3 separate regions of the Homo sapiens genome follow, and regions 2 and 3 are each linked to region 1. The links come from fine-mapping of genetic effects on gene expression. A gene starts in region 1. Each other region holds a variant in brackets. All regions are shown on one strand. Distances are between the middles of the regions. Region 1 holds the start of EXO5-DT (EXO5 divergent transcript). Region 2 has its middle 38 kb from the start of FOXO6-AS1. Region 3 has its middle 18 kb from the start of SMAP2.

Region 1 (8,198 bases):
GATCACCTGGGGTCGGGAGTTTGAGACCAGCCTGGCCAGCATGGTGAAACTAAAAATACACCTCATGGTGAAACTAAAAATACAAAAAATTAGCCGGGTGTGGTGGCGGGCACCTGTAATCCTAGCTACTCGGGAGGCTGAGGCAGGAAAATCGCTTGAACCTAGGAAGTGGAGGTTGCAGTGAGCTGAGATAACACCACTGCACTCCAGCCTGGGTGACAGAGTGAAGACTCCATCTCAAAAGAAAAAGAAAATTTTCAAACATACAGAGAAGTAGAAAGAATAAAACAACAAACACCCATGTCCACACCATGTAGATGAACAACTGTTGACATTTTGCTGTATTTACTTCTTGTGTGTGTACTTTTTTGTTTTGGCTGAACTATTTTAAAGTAAATTACAGATAGCATAAAACTTTAAAATCTAAATGTTTCAGCATAATTTCCAAATGGCATTCTTCTTCATAACCACAATACTGTCTTCCAAATGACATTCTCCTCATAACTACATTATCACATCTGACAAAATTAGTAATTCCTTAACATTCCAGTTCATATATAAATTTCCCCAACTGTCCTCAAAATGTCCTAGATAGCTTTTCTTTAATCCAGGAAACAAAGACCACACATTATGTTTGATTGTTTTGTCTTTCAAGTATTTTTTAATCTTAAGAAACTGGGCGGCCAAGCGCAGTGGTTCACGCCTGTAATCCCAGCACTTTGGGAGGCCAAGGCGGGCGGATCATGAGGTCAGGAGATCGAGACCATCCTGACTAACACGGTGAAACCTGTCTCTACTAAAAGTACAAAAAATTAGCCGGGCTTGGTGGTGGGTGCCTGTAGTCCGAGCTACTTGGGAGGCTGAGGCAGGAGAATGGCGTGAACCCAGGAGGCGGAGCGTGCAGTGAGCTGAGATCCCACCACTGTGCTCCAGCCTGGGCAACAGAGCGAGACTCCGTCTCAAAAAAAAAAAAGAAAAAAGAAAAAAGAAACTAGGCAAATTATCTTATGAAGATACTCTTTTTAAGCCTTCCTTCTAACCCCACATATCTAACCTGCATAGAGAGTAAGCAAAACAAGATACAACCAGTCCATTAGTGTTTGACTTTGAGTGCCAGGAAAATAAATAATTTGACATAGAATTTTAGCTGATAGAGATAGCTATGAACCAAATGTCCCCTTCTTGCTATTCTAATAAGCAGTGAAATAAGGTGAATGCACCAACTCCTATGTCAAAGCGTAAGAAGTGATGCCCTGAAAACGTCATTAATATCAGTTGTGGTTGTGTTTAACTGATTTTTAAATAGTCTAAATGTCACTAATGAAAGAAAACATAGATAGCTAGAAGAAAAGTTATCTGCAATGAATAAAAATAATACAATAGTAAGACTTTTGCTTATAGAGTATCCTACAACATTATTGCTTTACAGGATATTTCAATAGTAACAAAATACAGAAGCTGTGCATTTACACAAGTGTTATAAACTGTCAATGTGCTTTAAATAATTTCAAGAAACTTTATTTCAACTATGAAGTCTCTGAAAATTGGAAAGAATATTTACCCTTCACCAAGAAACTAAAGTTAAAGGGCATTTATTTTTTCTTTTCTTTTATTTTATTTTTTGAGACAGAGTCTCACTCTTTCACCCAGGCTGGAGTGCAGTGGCGGGATCTCAGCTCACTGCAAGCTCTGCCTCCCGGGTTCACGCCATTCTCCTGCCTCAGCCTCCCGAGTAGCTGGGACTACAGGCACCCGCCACCGCGCCCAGCTAATTTTTGTATTTTTTAGTAGAGACGGGGTTTCATCGTGTTAGCCAGGATGGTCTCGATCTCCTGACCTCGTGATGCACCCGCCTCGGCCTCCCAAAGTGCTGTGATTACAGGCGTGAGCCACCGCACCCAGCCCTAAAGGGCATTTATAACACATATGCTATGAGGTATTTGTGAGGGTGAGGGGGAACTCCAAGTCCAAATCAATAACCTTAAAATATTTTATTTCAAATATCTAGACCTGGCTGTCCAATATGGTAGCCATTAGTAGCCACTAGCCATATGTGGCTACTTAAATTTAATTAAAATAAAATAAAATTCACATCTCAGTTGCACTAGCCATATATTAAGTGCTCAGTAGCTACATCTGGCTGGTGGATACAGATAAGGCACAGATACAGAACATTCCCTGATCACAGAAAGCTCTACTGAACAGCATAGAGTTAGACTATTTCCTGTGTACACATTAACTCCCCAAAGAGAGAGGAAGCTCCTGAAATGTATGGAGTTCCTACTTGTTTTACATACAACATTGAGAACAGGTAGTTCTAAACAGGGAAGTGAAATGTCTTTTGGAGAAGATACAAAGCAGGGCATTCTCTGTGAAAGTATTCATCTATAAGAATAAAACAGTACACTAGGGATGGATGACTGATGCTCAGATGTGTCTGGGACTTTCCTACGCAGAAAAGAATCCAGAAGAGAGCATAATGCAGTGCATTGTGTCCCAAATTGTAGTTTGTATGTCTGACACGAGACGATTTTACATAGCACATGGACCAACATTTTTAGATACACCTTAGAATAACTATACTGTTATTGGAGCAGCCATCAAATGGCTAATTTCACAGATATTGTTTCTTAGGACAAGTTTGATTTTTATAAAAAAAAAAAGTAAGTAAAAACATAGAATAATACAGGTAGTACACAGGTATGGCAAAATTGTTAGGTAGTAAGTGAATGGGATGCTGGGAAACAGCATAATGCCAAGAGTCTGGGAGTCCTACAGATATGGATTCTAAACCTAATCCTGAGTAGTTCGGTAGCATTTAGTAGTATGCTACTTGCCTTTTGAGTAAGCTTGGACAAGGTTCTAGTTTTCCTGAAGTTACTGACACATTTTTAAAATACCTACTAACCCTACTGAGATATCCGACCATTGAGTGATAACATATAGTACGCATATTAGCACTCGATGAAGATAGATCTCCTTCTTTTTCCCCAAGGAAGAGATGAGAGAGTGTATCGATTCCCCCTGACAAAGGAGATGAAACTTTAGAAGAGAAACTCCTATTCACCTGTGACTTCGTTGATCTTCCTCCTCATAGGGAAGGCCAGAATGCTGAAATGACAAGGCTAGGGAAGAGAAAGAAGTTCTGAAAGACCAGGTCTGCATTAAAGAACCTAAATTAGCAACTTAGGTCCTTGCTATGGTAGAACCGGAACTTCTGGTCCTTTCTTACCTGACCATTCCCTCACGTTGGGTGTTTTCTCCTCTCACATTGACACTGCACAGACTGTTACCCACCCCAGATCCTAGGTTACATAACGCTCGCCTCTCTCCTGGGGCAAACTCTCTCCATGATTTCTTCGTTCCCCCGTACTCTAGATGCAATGACTTGATCCAATCCCTGCTCCCTGAAAGTAAAAGGGTCAGACATAACCAAGATCCCCAAGGAGCTCCGAGATCAGTTCCCTCTTCCAGCTCCATTCTCAACCCAGCAGCTCAAGCAAGAGACCTTATGACAGCGGCTCTTTCTCTCAGATGGGTTACTGCCTTCTGCAGAATTGCCGATGGCAACATCCTGACTTGTTCAGTGCGGCCCGGACTTGTGGGCTCCGCGGGCGTTTGCCTTCAGGGAAGATCTTTCCTCTGGCCCTAAAGCACTGTCTCCCAGGGAGTGCCATGCATGCCCTAAAGTGTACTGAGCACTTCCTACAGTTCTGGCAGAGCCAGGAATAAGAACAGGGAGCCGTCCACCTCGGGAAGGAGTCCCGGCCAACAGCACTGTGTTCCGAGGGCGAAGGTCCAGAACGGGAACCCGGCCTGTGAGGGGAGACGAGACGAGCCGCTTCCCGGGAGCCGCGCCCACCAAGGGAGGGAGACGCGGCGATCGCAGGGACAGAACCCTAAGCTCCGAAACGCAGCCTCCCAGCCCATTCTCCGGCCTTCCCCTAACCTCTGATACTCCTCCGAACCTCGGACTCCACCTGGTTTCGCCGCGGCCTCGGAGCTGCTCCCGGACGCTCCCGGCGAGGAGACTGAGGAAGCCGGGCAGAGCGCGCTGCCGGAGCGGACTACACAGTCGGCCCGCCACTCGCAAAAAAGCCGCCCAGAGCCCAGTCCCAGAGTGCCCCGCGGCTGCCCACGGACCGCCTTCCCAGAGGCCCTCGCGGCGCCGCCTACCTCGCGAGGCTGCGGCTGGGGCAGAAATCCGTCTCTGTGAGCGGAGGAGGGTGTGCTTATGCGAGAGCAGGTTTTGGGAGCTCACTAAAGCAGGTCAGTCCCTCTGTTTGCGCCGTTGTCTGTGGGTCGTTTAATTCCGGGCGCAGCTGATCTGTAACTTCCCTCACTGGCGAGGTCTCCCAGTTACCACCGGGACAATCCGAGCAAGGTCTGGGCCCCTCGCTGCCCCCGGTGAAGTGCCGCGTCTCCGCTTGGCCATCCGTGGATTCAGCATCCCCACCTTAGCACCTCCCGCCGGCTTTTCCATTGAGAGCAAAACCACGAACTCACTTTTGAGAGATGCTGGCGCTCCCCTCATCAATATTTCTTTTTTTTTTTCTGTTTGCTTACTTTTAACTAACCTTTTATTGATAAATATAACACAATTTTATTCTGAAATATAAACCAAAGATAAGTATAATTATGAACAGCCAAGTCATTAGAGCGAAAAAAGAATAGTGTCAGGTTCTTCACAGATACACTTCCTGAGAAAACCACTAGCCCGACTTTTATAACACTTTGCTTTTCTTATTTATATTTATTTATTTATTTATTTTACCAAAAGCAGATACTTGACTCTTTGCTTTTCTTTACGGTTTATCACGCATACTTGAAAACTGGATTTATGACAAAGGTGGCATCATACAGCCATGGAGAAAAGATGGTCTATTCAGTGAAGGTTCTATGACAATATGAAGGCCGGGCACGGTGGCTCACGCCTGTAATCCCAGCACTTTGGGAGGCTGAGGTGGGCGGATCACGAGGTTAAGAGATCGAGACCATCCTGGCCAACATGGTGAAACCCTGTCTCTACTAAAAAGTACAAAAATTAGCTGGGTGTGGTGGCACACACCTGTAGTCCCAGCTATTCAGGAGGCTGAAGCAGGAGAATCGCTTGAACCGGGAGGCGGAGGTTGCAGTGAGCGGAGATCACACCACTGCACTTCAGCCTGGGCAACAGAGGGAGACTCCGTCTCAAAAAAAAAAACAAAACAGAAAACAGGACCTCTATCTCTCATTTCATCACAAAAATCAATTGTAGCTGGATTAAGACCTAAATGTGAAATCCTAAACTATAAAGTCTTCAGAATATAATATAGGAAAATATCTTTGGACTTCAGAATAGGTAAATATTTTAAAACAAAAATAGAAAAACATTAAATTGGCCAGGCATGGTGGCTCATGCCTGTAATACCAACACTTTGGGAGGCCCAGGTAGGCGGATCACTTGAGGTCAGGAGTTGAGACCAGCCTGGCCAACATAGTGAAACCCCGTTTCTAGTAAAAATACAAAAAATTAGCCAAGTGTGGTGGCAGGTGCCTGTAATCTCAGCTACTTGGGAGGCTGAGGCAGGAGAATCACTTGAACCTGGGAGGCGGAGTTTGCAGTGAGCCGACAACAGGCCACTGCACTCCAGCCTGGGTGATAAAGTGAGACTCTGTCTCAAAAAAAAAAAGGAAAAAAAGAAAGAGAAAAAAGGAAAGAAAAAGAAAGAAAGAGAAAGAAAGAAAAGAAAAGAAAGAAAGAGAAACATTAAATTAAGACAACTACAGGCTGAGTGCAGTGGCTCACACACCTGTAATCCTAGAACTCTGGGAGGCCGAAGTGGGTGGATCCCTTGAGCTCAGTTCAGAAACCAGCTGGGGTAACATGGTGAAAACACGTCTCTACAAAAAATACAAAAATTAGCTGGGGGTGGTGATACGTGCCTGTAGTCCCAGCTACTCTGGTGCGTCAGTTGGGAAAATTTTGAAGTGACTTGTGTTTTAGATAATATTATCAATCAATTATAGGTCTCCTGAGTGTCATAATGATTTTGTGGTTATGTAGGAAAATGTTCTTTTTCTTAGAAATATGTAAGTTGAGGCCAGGTACGGTGGCTCTCGCCTGTAATCCTAGCACTTTGGGAGGCCGAGGCGGGCGGATCACCTGAAGTCAGGAGTTCAAGACCAGCCTGGCCAACATGGTGAAACCCTGTCTCTACTAAAATACAAAAATTAGCCGGGCATGATGGCAGGTGCCTGTAATCCTAGCTACTCGGGAGGCTGAGATGGGAGAATCGCTTGAAACCGGGAGATGGTGGTTGCAGTGAGCCGAGATCATGCCACTGCACTCCAGCCTGGGTGGCTGACTGAGACTCTTGTCTCAAAAAAAAAAAAAAAAAAAAATGGAATTTAAGTGTATTAAATAGTCTGTTCTCATGCTGCTAATAAAGACATACCTGAGATTGGGTAATTTATAAAGGAAAGAGATTTAATTGACTCACGGCTCCACATGGCGGGGGAGGCCTCACAATCATGGAGGAAGGTGAAGGAGGAGCAAAGTCACCTCTTACATGGTGGCAGGCAAGAGAGAACATGTGCAGGGGAACACACCTTTATAAAACCATCAGGTCAGCTGGGTGTGGTGCCTTATGCCCGTAATCCCAGCACTTTGGGAGGCCATGGCTGGTGGATCACCTAAGGTCAGGAGTTCAAGACCAGCCTGGCCAACATGGTGAAACCCTATCTCTACTAAAAATACAAAAAATTAGCCAAGCATGGTGGCAGACGCCTGTAATCCCAGCTATTCGGGAGGCTGAGGCAGGAGAATCACTTGAACCTGGGAGGCGGAGGTTGTGGTGAGCTGAGATCGCGCCACTGCACTCCAGCCTGGGCAACAAGAGTGAAATTCCATCTCAAAAACAAAAACGAAACAAAACAAAACCATCAGATCTTGTGAGACTTATTCACTATCACGAGAACAGCATGGGAAAGACCTGCCCCCACGATTCAATTACCTCCTACCAGGTACCTCTTCCATGATATGTGGGAATTATGGGAGCTACACTTCAAGATGAGATTTGGGTTGGGAGACAACCAAACCATATCATTGAGGAAATGCTTTTTAATCCATTGAGATATGAGAAGGCATTTCTGGATTGAGGCTACAAAAACTTTCTGCCTCTTCCCCAACATAACCTTTCTTACTTGAGATGTAAACTGAATGCCAGGAAAACCCCTCCCCAACCCCTTCACACATGGACCACTCCTCAAATGGGGTTTGAGGGGCAATGACACTGGGTAGAGTGAAGCAGAAGAGATTTAGAAACAGTCATGGAATTTGTGGGGAAAATAAATATCAAAAACATAGTACCATATATTCCCCAAAACTTTCAGCCTAAAGACTGTGGGTCTCAAAACTGAGAAAAGAATGCCCTTTTCCCCAAAAGGCTATCCTAGGAAGTCTGAGTCCTTAAGGCCCACCTGTATGCAAAAGTCACTGATTTGGTTCTTCCATCTCCAGGTCTGTAACCATCAAAATACTGTTAGACACAAATGGCCCATTTTCCTCTGTGTCCATTCTTCCCTCCTTGGTGTTTTGGAGCACAGGACTGTACCCCTAACATTGTACTGACTACAGTCTACCATATATCGGAGTAAGTCTTTATGTGATTACTCCCAGAGCTGCACTGTCCAATACAGTAGCCACTAGTCATATGTGGCTCTTGAACACTTGAAATGTGGCTAGTCCAAAATGAAATGTGCTATAATTATAACATTTACAAGCACTTTGAAGCTGAGTACAAAAAAAAGGTTAAATAACTCACTAATAATGTTTACATTGATTAAATGTTGAGATGATAATGTTTTGGATATATTGGTGATATGGTTTGGCTCTGTGTTTTCCACCCAAATCTCACCTTGAATTTTAATAATCCCCATGTGTCATGGGAGGGACCCAGTGGTAGGCAATTGAATCATGGGGACGAGTTTTTCCTGTGCTGTTCCCGTGATAGTGAATAAGTCTCACAATATCTGATGGTTTTATAAAGGGGAGTTCCCCTACACAAGCTTCTTGCCTGCTGCCATGTAAGACATGCCTGCTCTTCCTTCGCCTCCCGCCATGATTGTGAGGCCTCTCCAGCCATGTGCAATGGTGAGGCCATTAAACCTCTTTCCTTTATAAATTACCCAGTCTTGGGTATGTCTTTATTAGCAGC
Region 2 (8,198 bases), 910 kb before region 1:
GCCTTGCCTCCCACACTGTTCTGAGTCCATCACCATGGATGGGATGTGAGAGGCCTGTTTCTGGAGTGATCTGTGCTTTCAGCCCCTGGAATGCAGGCTCCATGAGGACAGGCTGTCCTACTCCTTGCATTGCCTGGCACCAGGCAGGTGCTGGGAAACTGTGGCCCCCTCCAGTGGCTCCCACTGGCTCCTAGACATTTCCCTTCCGCTTTCTCCCTCACACAGCTCAGACACTGACCCCAGCCACGCCCATATCCAAGCTCACACCCACCCTTGCCCCATGCATTTCCTCCAGCGGTGCTTCCCACTTAGGGTGGGGTGGCCCCTAGCTCCTACCCACTGTGGCCTCCCTCACCCCAGAACACTGCACTCATCGTGTTTTGTCTCCTATGCCCGTCCCACACTGCCTCACACATGCTGGGCTTGACAATCGCACTGCCATCCATTAGTCCTACCATACACCCTCATACTCACACATGTGACCATGGGACAGTCACTCCCCCTCTCTGGGTCTCAGTTTCACCATCTGTAAAGTGACACAATCAGGCTAAGTGCATTCTGTGAGCTCCTTTGGCTCTGAAAATAGCAAGTGTAAATACATATTTGTTAGACAAATAAATAGCCCCAAAGAATGGGTCTTCACTGATAGTGGGATTGTAGCATCTGCTGGAGTCATTTTAGAGGCAGAATTCCAAGTGTGGTGTCAAGAGTGCTGGCTGTGGAGCCAACTGCCTGGGTTAAAACCCTGGGTCTCAACTTTCCCATCTGTAAGATGGGGATAATAGTGGGGCAGGGTGAAGACGAAATAGGAGAGTGCACAGAAGCAGTTGTGGTGCAGAGAAGCCTGGCACTCACCTAGTGCACAGTAGAGTTTAGCTCCTACTGGCATTCCCAGGGCCCAGGGTCACTCAGCAAGCCCTGGAGTCCACACCCGCCCAGGACCAGAGGGCAGAGCAAAATGTGGCAGCAGTTTCTGCCGCATGCCACCAGAGGGCACCATGATGCAGCCAAGTGCGCCAAGGCCTCCCTGACTCACCCCAGGAAGACCACTCCTGAGGGAGGAGGGCAGTGCCAGCCAAAGCCTGCCGGCCAGAAGGACAAGGATGAGCCTCCATCCTCCAGAAGGGCTTCCACCACCACAGCCCTTTCTCCAGAAGATGCCCTACACCACCTCAGCCTGACATTCTGTCCATTTCTATCACAGCCTGTGATCCACAACAGCCTAGAGAACACGGATACTTCCTACCAAAGCCATTAGACCCATTTCACAGATGGGGAAACTGAGGCCCAAGAGAAGGCAAGATCAGCCCCAGGTCATGAGTGAATTTTTGTCTTCCTGTTCAGGCTGGCTTCCCTGCACACCCCCTAAGCATCCGTGGTATGACTCCCAACCGAGGCTGGGGTACCAGCACCTACGCTGCCTCCCTGGCTCCCTGAAGGCTGCAGGAGACAGGGGAAGCCACAAGTGTGAGGGTGGGGAGGCCTCAGCATAAGGGATGGAGAGAGCCAGGGGGGCGGGGGGCAGAGGGAGGCAGAGCAAAGCAACACGGGAAACAGGGCGGGGGCACGAGAGAGATGTGGGAGAGACATTCGGAAGAGACGGGTGGGACAGGAAGAGAGATAGACGGACAGACAGAGAAACCGAACCCTGAGGGAGAAGTGGGGGAGTGAGGGCGGCCGCAGGAGGCAGAGGAAGGGAGAAGGGAGAGCTCCCAGATGCAGGGAGCACACTAGGAAGAGAGATGGGGACAGACACAGAGAGACGGCTGGAAGGGGAAGAGGAAAACCCCTCCCCTCTCAGCCCCACAGCCCCCCACACCCCAGAAGCTTCACCCTTGGCTGGAGGAGGGGACCCTCTTTCCCTGTCCTGGGGGCTAAGCCCAGGCTTGGCACTCGCCCTCTGCTCCGCCCCCACCCAGCAGGTTCCTCAGCCAGACACCTGGGGATGGCGGTTGAGCTGGGCTCCCTGGGGCACCTGAGGCAGACAGGCAGGGTCCCCAAGGCCATGTTGCTAGGAGATGCGGCCCTAGGGCCCCAGCTTATCTCCTGAGCCTCTTCCAGGGCAGGGCTTGGGACTCACCTGGGGCACCAACCTCCCTGAGCTCCCGCCCCACTCAGCCCTGGTGGGCCCCTGCTGGGCATCCTACAGGCCCCTGTGCAGTGAAGAGGCACCCTTCATCCCTCTCCCTAGCCTCCGAAGGCAGAGGGAATGATACTTGGTGAGCACCTGTGGTTTGCCAGGCCTCACCAACTCCCAGCACCCTGTCCTGTCCTGTCCCAGCCACTGGGCCTGGTGTGCTCTTGAGAGACACTAAAACCCAGAGAGGCTGGTTCAAATTTCCACCTGCCTTTTACGAGCTGTGTGACCTTGGGCAAGTCACATACCTCCTCTTCTCCCTCATCTAAGGATGAGATCAGCAACCTCATCTTTAAACAGGGACAGTATCTGCTTCATAGGGTTGTCCAGAGGAGGAAAAGCCACAGTGGGAAGAGGGGACAGGAAAGGCTGGTTTCTATCACTGTTCCTGTCCCTGAGCCTGCAGGGCTGTGGCTGGGGGCACCTCCCAGCACCTCCCCAGTCAGCCCTGTCCTGGCCCTGCTTTGAGCCCAGTGATTCACAGCAGCCTCTAGGGAAAGGGCTGCCCTGACCTCTCCCCAAGGCACTTGGACAGACACAATGAGGGATAAACCCTGGGGCACAGGCAAAGCCACACCCTTGTCCCTCTGTTCTGTTTTAGGGACTCAGGTAAGAGCAACTTACCTCCCAGGCCCTGTTTTAAGCACCTTAGCAAACCCACAAGGGCACCTGGTGCTGGTGTGACCATTATCCCCATAAATGGATGCTCAGAGCTATGCCTCTGCACAAGCTCCCCAACCAGGAATAGAGGGGCTCTGGTGCTTGGACCCAGGCTGACAGCTTCAAGAGCCCCAGCCCTTAACCTCCAGGCCTCAGTACCTGGAAAACCCAGAGAGAGGGTCTCACAGGGAGAAGCAGGAAGGTGGAGGCTGGGCCAGGGCTCCTCCCCGATGCTCCCATCCCAGCTCTAGTGCCTGGCTTGGACATGGCAGGTGAGAGGCCTGGAAGGCAGTGGGAGGACAAGTCCACGGCCAGACTCAAGCTTGATTTATTGTTTGCGCCTTCAGGCTGGCTTGTAAATCTCAGGCTGCAGCACCGGCCAGGCCCCTGGCAGGCCACAGGGGACAACTCCAGGAAGCCTCAGAGCATGCCATCCAGTGGGGGAGACTTCGCTCACCCTGCCCCAGAGCAGTCTCTTGGGGGAGACCCAAGAACTGCCCCAGGCATCACCAGGATACTCTGGAGCTCAAGGACCTGTGGCTATGCCTAGGGTGTCCAGCCCCGAGCCCCTTACCCAGGCCCTCTCCATGCCTTCACTCCACTTTCTCATTCCCCCCAGCCTCAGCAGGGACAGCACATGCAGTGTGGCAGTCGGGGCTGGGTGGGGGGGCTGCTGTTGGCAGCTGTGCCCAGGCCACTCCAACCTGTATGTCTGTCCAGCCATGCCCATGGCTATATGGAGATGGATGCCTGAGGTCAAGGCCCACCTTGTCCTGCTCCAGCCCCATGAACCCTGCAAGTCCCTTGACCTTTCACTTAAAAATTTAACAAGATGAAAGTGGCCAGCATTCACTAGGCAGTCTTGGTCAGAAGTGGTCCTCCACAGATGCCAGCTCCCTTCCTCCTTCCTTCAGGGGCACCAGGCACCCAGCCAGCCTGATCTCCGTTCGCTTCATGAGACACCAGGCCCTTGGCTAGAAGCTCTCTGACTGGGTCCAGGGAGCTAAAAGGAGAGAGAAGCAGAGGGCAGGTGATGTGCCAGCCTGGGGGGTGGGCACTGGTAACCATATGTCCGAGCAGTTCCATGCCAGGTGTGTAATATCTCTTTCTACCAGCATCAGCCCCCTCCTGCTCCTGGGGCTGCAGCCCTTTGGGGTCTCCTGGATTCACCTTCCATCCCTCCATACAGGCACACCCGCCACCCTCCAAAATGAGTTTAGATCCTGGCTCAGGCCCTTTCTAGCATTGTGAGACATTGTGCAAGTCACAGGCTATGTGTGTCATTGATGTAACACTGAAGGAGCATCCGAAGTGCAGTTATGACCTGGGGACATGTGAGGCCTTGGGTCTCAAACTGCGTGAGAGACTGGGGTAGCGGGGGAGGGCATGACCCGGCCAGTGTGTACGTGTGTTTGTGCACACCCACACATGCATGTGAGTATGCACAGGTGTGCGGGGCATGTGCATGTGTGCTCACATGTGTCTGTGCACATGTATGCTGTATGCTTGTCACATGCATATGTACTTGCATACACACTCATGTGCATGTGTGTGCAATATGTATGCATGCGTGTATCCTTGCGAGTACACCTATATGCACACTGCATACGTGTGTGTTTATGTGCTCTTGTGTGTAGTTGTGT[GTGTA/A]TTTTTTGTGCGTGTACTTTTTGTGCATGTGCATGAACGTGGGGGTGCAGCAGATCTCCCTGGCTCCTCTGAATCCCTCTTCCCTTTGATTCCTTCCCTCCTCCTCCCTCCATCCCTCTTCCTTGGCCCCGCAGCCAGATATGTAGACAGCCCAGGCTGGAGGCAAGGGTGAGTGGGAGATGATCACGCTGCACCACTCACAAGGACCCTCTAATCCTCTTAGCTCCCACTTAACCCCACAGCCCCCTGGTGGGAGCAGCCCCTGCCTGCTCTCAGCTGGCCTGGGGCACCGAGGCAGAGCAGTGGCTAATGGGCGTCCAAGCCAGCCCCCAACCAGTTCATTAGCAACGATGAACCCAGCAGCCTCGTGGGGGTTGGGAGGGTCACTTCTCAACCACTAAGACCCTTTCCTATCCATTATATCTTTTGATCCTGACAACTTTCTGCAAGGGGATTTTAATGCCCTTTTGACAGTGAAGGGCACTGAGGCTCAGAGAGAGAGAGGCTTCCTTGAGGTCACACAGCAGGACAGTGCCAGAGTTGGCTTAGCTCAGGCGTCACCCACACCTGAGGCCACAGGGAACAAGAAATGCATTGGGATGCTCCCCAGGGGAGGCTCATGATCCTAGGGCTCTGACATTTTGGGGTCTCCTCTCCACCAGAGCTCTGGGGCCCCAAATTCCCATGCAGTCCCCTTTCCACGCCCCCTGCCTCCACCCACACCCGAGTTTCCTGGCAGCAGCCTGCTGAAAGACCTGCCTTATCTCTGTCCTTTGCAAGGTCTGCCTGTTCATCCTGTAGGGCGAAGGGTCCTGCTCAGGGCCATCTCGGTGACAGTCCAGCCTGCATGCCACTCCCCATGTTTTCCTTTCCAGAGCCACGTGGGGTCACTTGCTATGCAGCAGGCAGACTGAGGTTAGCCTGGTGGCAGGGCAAGCCCAGACCGGCCCTGGCCTCTCCACATCAGCCCCTTCGCCCTGCTCCAACTCGCTCAGGGCACCCCTGAAGGTCCACTGCCCCAACTCACCCCTCCTAGCCAACTCTGCACACTGGGGTCCCTGTGCTTGGAACACCCTTCCCACCCTGTCACCCAAACTCTTTGTCTGCCTGACTTCTTCAGGTCTAGACCTAAATGTCACTGCCTCAGAGAACATTCCCCAACTACCTCATCTAAATGAAGTGTTTTTGTTATTCTCCTACAGGCACGTTTCACAATTTGTACAAACATATGTCTTTATGTCTTTGTTGGTCTACCCCACTTGATGGTAAGTTTCATGCATGAAGTCAAGGGACATGTATGTCCAACATTGGTCCTGGAGATGCCAGACACATAGGAGATTTTTGGTAAAACCTTGTTGAATAAATAAAGAGTGGAGAGATGAACCAGCAAGATGTGCCTCCTCCACACCTGCACAGCCAAAGAGCTGCATGGTGGGGAGGGTGGGAGATGCTGCCCAGGTCAGGCGGAAGCAGCCCTGGCTTGGTGCTCATACTCCAGGGACAGGCTAGGGAGGAGGTCCCACTCCCCAGCCAGCTCTCAGAGAGGTTGGCCAGTCCCTCAGCCTCCCAAGTGAGCAGGGGCTGAATCCGCCTCCTGATGGCCTCTCCTTGTTTTTTTCTTTTTCTTTCTTTCTTTCTTTCTTTTTTTAGACAGTGTCTTGCTCTGTGGCCCAGGCTGCAGTTCAGTGCCACGATCTCGGCTCACTGCAACCTCTGCCTCCCAGGTTCAAGTGATTCTCCTGCCTCAGCCTCCTGAGTAGCTGGGACTACAGGTGCCCACCACCATGCCAGGCTAATTTCTGTATTTTTAGTAGAGATGGGGTTTCACCATGTTGGCCAGGCTGGTCTTGAACTCCTGACCTCCAGTGATCTGCCCGCCTTGGCCTCCCAAAGTGCTGGGATTACAGGCATGAGCCACCACACCTGGCCTGGGCCTCTCCTCCTTCTAGGCCTTCCAGGAAAGAAGATCCCAGTCCCCCAGGCCTATGTAGACTCCACCATGTAGCCCTGGTCATGGCCCAAACTTGCTACGTGCCCCTGAGTGAGTCCCCACCCATCTCTGGGTCTCAGCTTCCTCATCCAAAAAACAAAGGAGTTGAAGAAGATGACCTCTGTCTGTAGTAGCAGCTTCCAAGAAGTCCCCGGTGCTTGTCATCACCTGGTAGTTGCATCCCTGTGTAGTCATTGAACAGAGCTGATCTTTGTACACAATGGGATATTATGAAAGTGACAGAGTGTGGCTTCCTAGGCTAGGTCGCAAAAGGACAGTGAGGCTTCCGTCTCACTCATTCTTAAATCACTTTCTCTGGGGGAAGCCAGCTGCCATGTTGTGAGGAGACTCAAGCAGCCCAGTGGAAAGGAAATGAGGCTTCTTGCCAGCAAGCTGCTCCAGCCTGCAGGTGTGTGATGAGTCATCTTAGAAGCAGATGCTTTCACCCAGGTGAACCTGCAGATGACTGCAGTCCCAAGCCAATATCTTTTCTCCATCCATCTTCCACACTGACTGCTGGAGGGAGGACTTTCTAAACTATAGATCCGGGCTGGGTAGAGTGGCTCACACCTGTAATCCCAGCAATCCCAGCACTTTGAGAGGCTGAGGCAGGCAGATTGCCTCAGCCCAGGAGTTCAAGACCAGTCTGGGCAACATGGTGAAACTATCTCTACAAAAAAAAAAAAAAAGAAGAAAATTAGTGGGGCATGGTGGCACACACTGTAGTCCCAGCTACTCAGGAGGCTGAGTCAGAAGAATCGCTTGAGCCCTGGAGACTGAGGCTGCACTGAGCCAAGATCGTGCCACTGCACTCCAGCCTGAGCAACAGAGCAAGACCCTGTCTCAAAAAGATAAAAATTAAAATTAAACATAGATCTGATCATGTTGCTCCTGCTCTAGAGCCTTCCATGGCTCCCTTGTTGCCTACAGAATAAGGTCCAAACCCCTTGGACTGGCATTTAAGACCTTTTATCATTGCCCCCAGTTACCTCTCCAGCCTGATCTCTAGTTTTTGTTTGTCTCAACTCTAATATCCCACTAAGACTGAACCACCTCTAATTTCTGAACACAAGAGATTTTCATGCCTCTGTGCCTTTGCTCACACTGTTCTCTGTATCTGAATATTCTTCCCCTTCTTTGCCCAGAAAACTCCTACCAATATGTCAAGACCCAGCCATTCTGATCCACCACAAAGCTCTAGTATCTCTCTTGGCCCCACTGCATCTTGTTGGATTGCACTGATCGGTTTATATGCCTTGCACCCCACTAGACTGACAGCTCGAAAGCAGGATATGTCTTTCTCTGTATCGCCAGTGCTTTGCTCAGTGGCCAGTATACAAAGCCCATACAAGTTCTTAAAATGGAAGACCTTTAGGTTGACCTTTAAAGTCAATGCATTTAAAATCCACTTTGAATGGATATATTGCTAAAAGGTATTATAGACTCCCCTGCTTTTTAAAAACAGTACATGGGACATGACTTAACCTTGTCTGATTGTATGATTTGTGTCAATACAGATGCCGAGCTTTTGTGAAGGAGCCTTGGAGATCATCCAGTAGTGGAGGGATCTCAAGGCTACAGAGATCAAGTAACTTCCCAGGAAAGCAGCTTGTGGGATGATCTTTAATTAATGTCTGGGCTACAGTAAATGATGCTTCCTGCTTTACTGAAGAGCTTAGAGCCCTTGCCTTGCCCCTGCAGTAAATGGCCCCAAAGTCCGTGTTCTTCCAGTCTTTCCGTGTTTTTATGATCTTCCTGTCTCAG
Region 3 (8,198 bases), 150 kb after region 1:
GCCTGTAATCCCAGCACTTTGGGAGGCCAAGGTGGGTGGGTCACCTGAGGTCAGGAGTTCGAGACCAGCCTGGACAACATGGGGAAACCCCGTCTCTACTAAAAATACAAAAATTAGCTGGGCATGGTGGCACGCACTTGTAGTTCCAGCTACTTGGGAGGCTGAGGCAGGAGAATTGCTGGAACCTGGGAGACAGAGGTTGCAGTGAGCTGAGATTGTGCCACTGCACTCCAACCTGGGCAACAAAGCAAGGTTTTGTCTCAAACAAACAAACAAAAAAAGATACACATAGACTGAAAATAAAGGAATGGAAAAAGATATTCCATGTCAATGAAAACAAAAAAGAACAGAAGTAACTATATTTATAACAGACAAAATAGATTTCAAGATACAAACCATAAAAAGAGACAAAGAAGGTCATTATATAATGATAAAGGAATCAATTCAGCAAGAGGATGTATATATCTGCATCCAACACTGGAGCACCCAAATATATAAAGGAAATATTATTAGAGCTAAAGAGAGAAATAGACCCCAATACATTAATAGCTAGAAACTTCAACACCCTACTTTCAGCACTGGGCAGATCATCCAGACAGAAAACCAACAAAGAAACATCAGACTTAATCTGCACTAAAAATCGAATGAACCTAATAGATACAAAACATTTCATACAACAGCTGCGGAATACATATTCTTCTCCTCAGCACATGGATCATTCTCAAGGATAGAGTATATGTTAGGCCATAAAATAAGTCTTTAAAAATTCAAGACCAGGTGCAGTGGCTCATGCCTGTAATCCCAGCACTTTGTGTGTGTTTTTTGTTTTGTTTTGTTTTGAGATGGAATCTTGCTCTGTCGCCCAGTCTAGAGTGCAATGGTGTGATCTTGGCTTACTGTAACCTCCGCCCCCTGGGTTCAAGCAATTCTCCTGCCTTAGCCTCCCAAGTAGCTGGGATTACACATGTCCACCACCACGCCCAGCTAATTTTTTGTATTTTTAGCAGAGACAGTGTTTCACCACGTTGGCCAGGCTGGTCTCGATCTCCTGACCTCAAGTAATCCACCTACTTTGGCCTCCCAAAGTGCTGGGATTACAGGTGTGAGCCACTGCACCCGGCCAAAAATCAGTAGCATTTCTGTATGTCAACAGCAAACAATCTGAAAAAGAAATCAAGAAAGTAATCCCATTTACAATAGCTACAAATTAAGTAAAATACATAAGAATTAACCCAAGAAGTGAAAGATCTTAACAATAAAAACTATAAAACATTGATGAAATAAATCAAGATGACACAAAAAATGGAAACGTATTCCATGTTCATGGATTGGAAGAATAAATATTGTTAAAATATTCATATTGCCTAAAGCAATGTACAGATTTAATGCAATCCCTATTAAAAAAAAAACCAATAACATTCCTCAAAGAAATAGGAAAAACAATCCTAAAATTTATATGAAACCACAAAAGACCCAGAATAGCTAAAGCTATCCTGAGCAAAAAGAACAAAGCTGGAGTAATCACATTACCTGACTTTAAATTATACTACAAAGCTATAGTAACCAAAACAGCATGGCATTGGCACAAAAATGGACATATAGACAAATGGAGCAAAATGAAAAACCCTGAAACAAATCCATACACCTACAGTGAATTCTTTTTGAGCAAAGATGCAAAGAATATTGACTGGGGAAAAAACAGTCTCTTCAATAAATGGTGCTAGGGAAACTGCATACCTATATGTAGAAGAATGAAACTAGACCCTTCTCACCATATACGAAAATCAAACCAAAATTTGATCTAAGACTTAAATCTAAGACTTCAAACTGTGAAACTACTAAAAGAAAACACTGAGGAAACTCTCTGGGACATTGGACAGGGCAAAGATTTCCTTCTTTTTTTTTTTTTGTGGTTGTTGTTTGTTTTTGAGACAGAATCTCGCTCTGTGGCCCAGGCTGGAGTGCAGTGGTGTGATCTCAGCTTACTGCAACTTCTGCCTCCCAGGTTCAAGGAATTCTCCTGCCTCAGCCTCCTGAGTAGCTAGGACTACAGGCACACGTCACCATGCCTGGCTAATATTTGTATTTTAAGTAGAGATGGGGTTTCACCATGTTGTCCAGGCTGGTCTCGAACTCCTGACCTCAGGTGATCCAAAATTTCTCAAGAAATACCTCACAAGCACAGGAAACCAAAGCAAAAATGGACAATGGGGTCCATTGGAAATACTCAACAATCCAAAGGAAATAATCAACAAAATGAAGAGACAACCCACAGAATGGGGAAAAAAATGTGCAAACCATTCATCTGACAAGGGCTTAATAAACAGAATATATAAGGAGCTCAAATAACTCAATAGGAAAAAAATCTAATAATCTGATTTAAAAATGGGCAAAAAATCTGAACAGACATTTCTCCAAAGAAGACACACAAAGGTCAAATAGGTATATGAAAAGTTGCTCAACATCACTGATCATAAGAGAAATGCAAATCAAAACTAAAATGAGATATTATCTCACCCCAGTTAAAATGGCTTTTATCCAAAAGACAGGCAATAACGAACACTAGAGAGGATGTGAAGAAAAGGGAACCCTCGTACACTGTTGTTGGGAATGTAAATTAAGACAACCACTATGGAGAACAGTTTGGAGGTTCCTCAAAAAACTAAAAATAGGGGTCCAGCACGGTGGCTCACGCCTGTAATCCCAGCACTTTGGGAGGCCAAGGCGGGCGGCTCACAAAGTTAGGAGATCGAAACCATCCTGGTTGACACAGTGAAACCCCGTCTCTACCAAAAATACAAAAAATTAGCTGGGCATGGTGGCAGGTGCCTGTAGTCCCAGCTACTCAGGAGGCTGAGGCAGGAGAATGGTGTGGACCCGGGAGGCAGAGCTTGCAGTAAGCTGAGATCACGCCACTGCACTCCAGCCTAGG[C/T]GACAGAGCGAGACTTGGTCTCAAAAAAAAAAAAACAAAAAAAAACAAAAAACCCACAAAAAACTAAAAATAGAACAACCATATGATCCAGCAATCCCATTGCAAGGTGTATATCCAAAAGAAAGGAAATCAGTATATCGAGGGGATATCTGCACTGTCCTGTTTATTGCAGCACTGTTCACTATAGCCAGGACTTAGAAGCAACCTAAGTGTCTGTCAACAGACAAATGGATAAAGAAAATGTGGTACGTACATACAATGGAGTACTATTCAGCCATAAGAAAGAATGAGATCCTCTAGTTTGCAACAAGAATGGAACTGGAGGTCATTATGTTAGTGAAATGAGCCAGGCACAGAAAGACAAACTTCACATGTTCTCACTCATTTGTGGGAGCTAAAAATTAAAACAACTGAACTCATGGAGACAGAGAGAAGAATAATGGTTACCAGAGACAGGGAAGGTTAGTGGGGGTGGGGGAAAGTGGGAATGGTTAACGGGTACAAAAATATAGTTAGATAGAATGAATAAGATCTAGAATTTGCTGGGTGCAGTGGCTCACACCTATAATCCCAGCATTTTGGGGGGGCTGAGGCAGGTGGGTCGTTTGAGCCCAGGAGTTCCACAGCAACCTTGGCAACATAGTGAGACCTCGTCTCTACAAAAAATTTAAAAATTAGCACATGCTTGTAGTTCCAGCTACTTGAGGGGCTGAGAAGGGAGGATTGCTTGAGCCTGGGAGGTCAAGGCTGAAGTGAGCCCTGACCGGTGCCACTGCACTCCAGCCTGGGCAACAAAGTGAGACTCCGTCTCAAAAAAAAATCTAGTATTAGATAGCACAACAGGGTGACTACAGTCAAAAATAATTTATTGTATATTTTAAAATAGCTTAAAGAGTATAATTGAATTGTTTGTAACACGAAGAATAAATGCTTGAGACACCCTATTTACCCTGATGTGATTATTATGCATTGTATGTCTGTATCAAAATATCTCATGTACCCCATAAGTACATACACCTACTATGTACACACAAAAATTAAAAATTAAAAATAAGCAATTATAAATACATATTGAAAGTATAATAGTATAGTGATAACGAGGAATAAGCAAAAAAGAGACCAAAACAAAAATTCTTAGTAAACAGGCACTGATACTCATCATTATCCTTGAAAACTAGTCAGAGGCAAAAGCACCACTATCATAACCTGAGTAGAGGCCGGAAGAGTGCTGAAGGTGGCAAAGCAAGAATAGAACTCTGGTCAGTTTCTATTAATGGCCATTAATTTTAATGGCAAAAACCACAATTATTCTTTATCAGTATCAGCATAAGGGTGATCTGTAAAACCTTCAATGAGGCCAGGTGCACCTCAGGCCTCACTTTGGGAGGGTGAGGCTGGCAGAACATTGGGAGGGTGAGGCGGGCAGATGACTTGAGGCCAGGAGTTTGAGACCAGCCTGACAAACATGGTGAAACCCCCTCTCTACTAAAAATACAAAAGTTAGCTGGGTTTGGTCGTGGGTGCCTATAATCCCAGCTACTCAGGAGACTGAGGCAGGAGAATCACTTGAACCCGGGAGGTGGAGGTTGGAGTGAGCTAAGGGCCGAGATCACGCCACTGTACTCCAGCCTGGGTGACAGAGTGAGACTCTGTCTCAAAAAAAAAAAAAAAAAAAAAAAAAAATTCAATGTTTTGGTTCATTTCACTGCTCTGATATGCCAGACTAGTTGGTCACAAGTTATACTACTAAAGCTAATAAAATCCAAAACAATTCTCATTTAAAAAAAATTAACTAACCTTATATTAAAAAACTTGGCTGGGCACGGTGGCTCACGCCTGTAATCCCAGCACTTTGGGAGATCGAGGCAGGCAGATCCCAAGGTCAGGAATTTGAGACCAGCCTGGCCAATATGGTGAAACCCCATCTCTACTAAAAATACAAAAATTAGCTGGGTGTGGTGGTGGGCGCCTGTAGTCCCAGCTACTCGGGAGACTGAGGCAGGAGAATCACTTGAACCCGGGAGGCGGAGATCAGTGAGCCGGGATCACGCCACTGCACTCCAGCCTGGGCGACAGAGCGAGACTCCATCTCACAAGCAAAACAAAACAAACAAACAAACAAAAACTCACAATCTTACTATTATCAACACCCATGGACTCTAGGACATAATTTGAGACATTTCCTGTTGAGGCAGTCTTTATTCCATTTGAAGTCACCCTTGGATGAGCATCCCTCTGGATTTTTCTCTGCTTGTGCCCTTCCTACAGAGTCCAGCTCTCTGTAAGTTCAGAAGGCCTTTGAATGAGAATCAAGAGAAACCCAACTAACAGTAGCTTAAAGAGTGGTTTATTTTATCACTGAACAAGAAATCCAGAGGCAAGGGAGTGGTTTACATTGATTCAGCTTCTGGACAAGGCCATCAACACCCAGGCTTTATCATTCTGCTTTGCCATCCTCAACCTATTGTATTTTTATCCTGATGTTTAATGGTTCTCAAAGTGTGGTCCCCAGACAAGCAGCATCAGTGTCACCTGGCAACTTGTTAGAAATGCACATTCTGGCCAGGCACGATGGCTCACACCTGTAATCCCAGCACTCTGGGAGGCTGAGGCAGGAGGATTGCTTGAGGTCAGATGTTCAAGACCACCCTGGCCAACATAGCAAGATACTTGTCTGTTAAAAAAAAAAGAAAGAAAGAGAGAAATGCAAATTCTCAGCCCACTCTAGGTGTATAAATCAGAACTTCTGAGGATAGGGCTCAGCAGTCTCTTTTAAGAAGCCTTCTGGGCCATGTGCAGTGACCTGTAATCCCAGCACTTTGGGAGGCCAAGGAGGGTGGGTCACTTGAGATTAGGGACTCGAGACCAGCCTGGCCAACATGGTGAAAACCCATCTCTACTAAAAATACAAAAAATTAGCCGGGCATGGTGGCAAATGCCTGTAGTCCCAGCTACTCAGGAGGCTGAGGCAGGAGAATCACTTGAACCCGGGAGGCGGAGGTTGCTGTGAGCTGAGATCATGCCATTGCACTCCAGCCTGGGCAACAAGAGCAAAACTCTGTCTCAAAAAAATAAAGAAGCCCTCTGGGTGACTATTCTGGTGCACATTCAAGTATGAGAACTGCTGCTCATGTAAATCACCTCATGGTCACAAGATGGTCACCACAGCTCTAAACATTGCATCATCTTCCAATGAAGGAAGAAGAGAAAAGGAATGTCCCCAATCTTAGCTGTTTCTTTTATCAGGAAAACAAAAGTTTTCCGAGAAGCTCACAGCAGTCTTTCCCTTAAGACTCCTTGGCCAAAACTAGGTTGCATGGCTCAGCCTCTAACTGCAAAGGACACCAGGAAAGCCCTTATGGCAGGAGGCAGCAAGAGAGATGGGTGCTGGACATGGCTGTGGGCAACCCCGGACAATGTCTGCCATAGAGTCCATGGTGGTCAGGACCATGGAAAACGTCATGCCTGACTCCATCTGCAAACGTAGTCTTAGAACTTTCAGATTCTTCAGATGGGAGTACCCAGACATAAAAATTTCATTGTTGTTAATATCTATCAATTGTGGTCGAGATCATTACACATCATGCTAAAATAATCCTTTCCCATCAAAAATGAGGAGGAGGCGCCGCGTGTGGTGGCTCACACCTGTAATCTTAGAGCTTTAGGAGGCCAAGGAGGGAGGATCGCTTGAGGCCAGGAGTTTGAGACCAGCCTGGGCAACATAGCGAGGCATTGTCTCTACAAACTTTTTAAAAAATTAGCAGAGAATGGTGGCTTGCTGCTGTAGTCCTAGCTAAGGTGGGAGGATTGCTTGAGCCTGGGAGTTCAAGGTTGCAGTGAGCTATGATCATGCCACTGCACTCCAGCTTGGATGACAGAGCAAGATCCTGTCTTTAAAAGTAAAAAAAAATAGAAAAACTTTTTAAATTAAAATATTTTAAAATGAGCAAGGGAAACAACAAAGAAGGAAGAAGAGAAAGAAGTGACGAACTCTGCCTTGACAGAGTGGAGTTCTTTTCCGAGCAATCAAGGAGGAGAACATTATAGGCAGAGAGATTAAAATGCATGAAAATGCAGAACTGAAAAAGAACTCTGAGCTGCTAGAGAGGTTACATGTGGCAAGCATTAGGAGAAGCTGGACAGAGGGTGAGGGCCAGATCACGAAAGGCCTTGTATGCTGTGCTGAGAAGGTTGAACTCCACCCTGTTCCTAATATCATTAAAGCTTGGAGGGCATCTTATCCTGGGTCCACAGATGGACTTTGGCACCTTATCAACACTATTTATTTTAAACATTATTTATAATATCAACCCCCTGAAATTGTATGAAAAATTTCATGGAGCTGCTCTGCCTATGGAGTAACTATTCTTTTGTTTCTTTACTTTCTTAATAAACTTGCTTTCACTTTACAAAAAGAAAAAAAAATTCATGGATGTGCGGGTGTGTGCAGTCTTGGGGAGAGAGGGCCTCAGATTTGCAGGGATGTGCATAACCCAAAGAAGCTTAAGAATCTGGCTGGGTACGGTGGCTCACACCTGTAATTCCAGCACTTTGGGAGGCCGAGGTGGGTAGATCACTTGAGGCCAAGAGTTCGAGACCAGCCTGGCCAACATGGTAAAGCCATGTCTCTATTAAAAAAAATTAAAATAGGCTGAGCGCGGTGGCTCACCCCTGTACTCCCAGCAATTTGAGAGGCCAAGGTGGGTGGATCACCTGAGGTTAGGAGTTCGAGACGAGCCTGACCAAATGGTAAAACCCCATCTCTACTAAAAATACAAAATTAGCCGGGCTTGGTGGTGCACGCCTGTAATCCCAGCTACTCCGGAGGCTGAGGCGTGAGAATCGCTTGACCCAGGAGGCAGAGGTTGCAGTGAGCCAAGATCGTGCCATCGCACTCCAGCCTGGACAACAAGAGTGAAACTCTGTATCAAAAAATAAATAAATAAATAAAAATGAAAGAATCATTTCTTTAAGGAGTCAAGGAGTTAATCATTGTATTCTGTATTCATCACCAGAATAAATTTATACTCTGAACAGACTCTAGATCCAGGTTAACTAGAAAAGACAGAGTTCAGACCAGAGCTGAGATTCTATCTTCTTGTCCACAGCGTTTCTTGTGCAATCTGTGCAATGGACAATCTCCAACAAGTGCCAAGACAGATGAGTATCTCCTTTTCCCCTCCTTGTCAGGCCACAGAGTCCCTCCTCTCTCCAATAACCTCTCAGCCCTGCTCTCTGTCACCACTCCCAAATGACGAGAAAGGAG

The links.
Region 2: its variant is fine-mapped to the expression of EXO5-DT in skeletal muscle (FUSION, PIP 0.95).
Region 3: its variant is fine-mapped to the expression of EXO5-DT in coronary artery (GTEx, PIP above 0.99).

The regions. Positions count from the first base shown.
Region 1 is chr1:40,504,660-40,512,857 of GRCh38, reverse strand. EXO5-DT (EXO5 divergent transcript) reads left to right here and starts at 4,163. Exons shown (of 2, transcript NR_187365.1): 1 at 4,163-4,269. It overlaps EXO5 (exonuclease 5), which reads right to left and starts at 4,091. Exons shown (of 4, transcript NM_001346953.2): 1 at 3,950-4,091; 2 at 3,233-3,407; 3 at 3,068-3,125. RefSeq lists enhancers at 3,685-3,774, 3,805-4,054.
Region 2 is chr1:41,410,059-41,418,256 of GRCh38, reverse strand. No RefSeq gene overlaps it. Among named protein-coding and RNA genes, the nearest start is that of FOXO6-AS1, 38 kb to the right of the region's middle. The variant GTGTA/A (reference allele first, on the strand shown) is at 4,441.
Region 3 is chr1:40,351,185-40,359,382 of GRCh38, reverse strand. It overlaps a transcript of SMAP2 not described here. Among named protein-coding and RNA genes, the nearest start is that of SMAP2, 18 kb to the left of the region's middle. The variant C/T (reference allele first, on the strand shown) is at 2,933.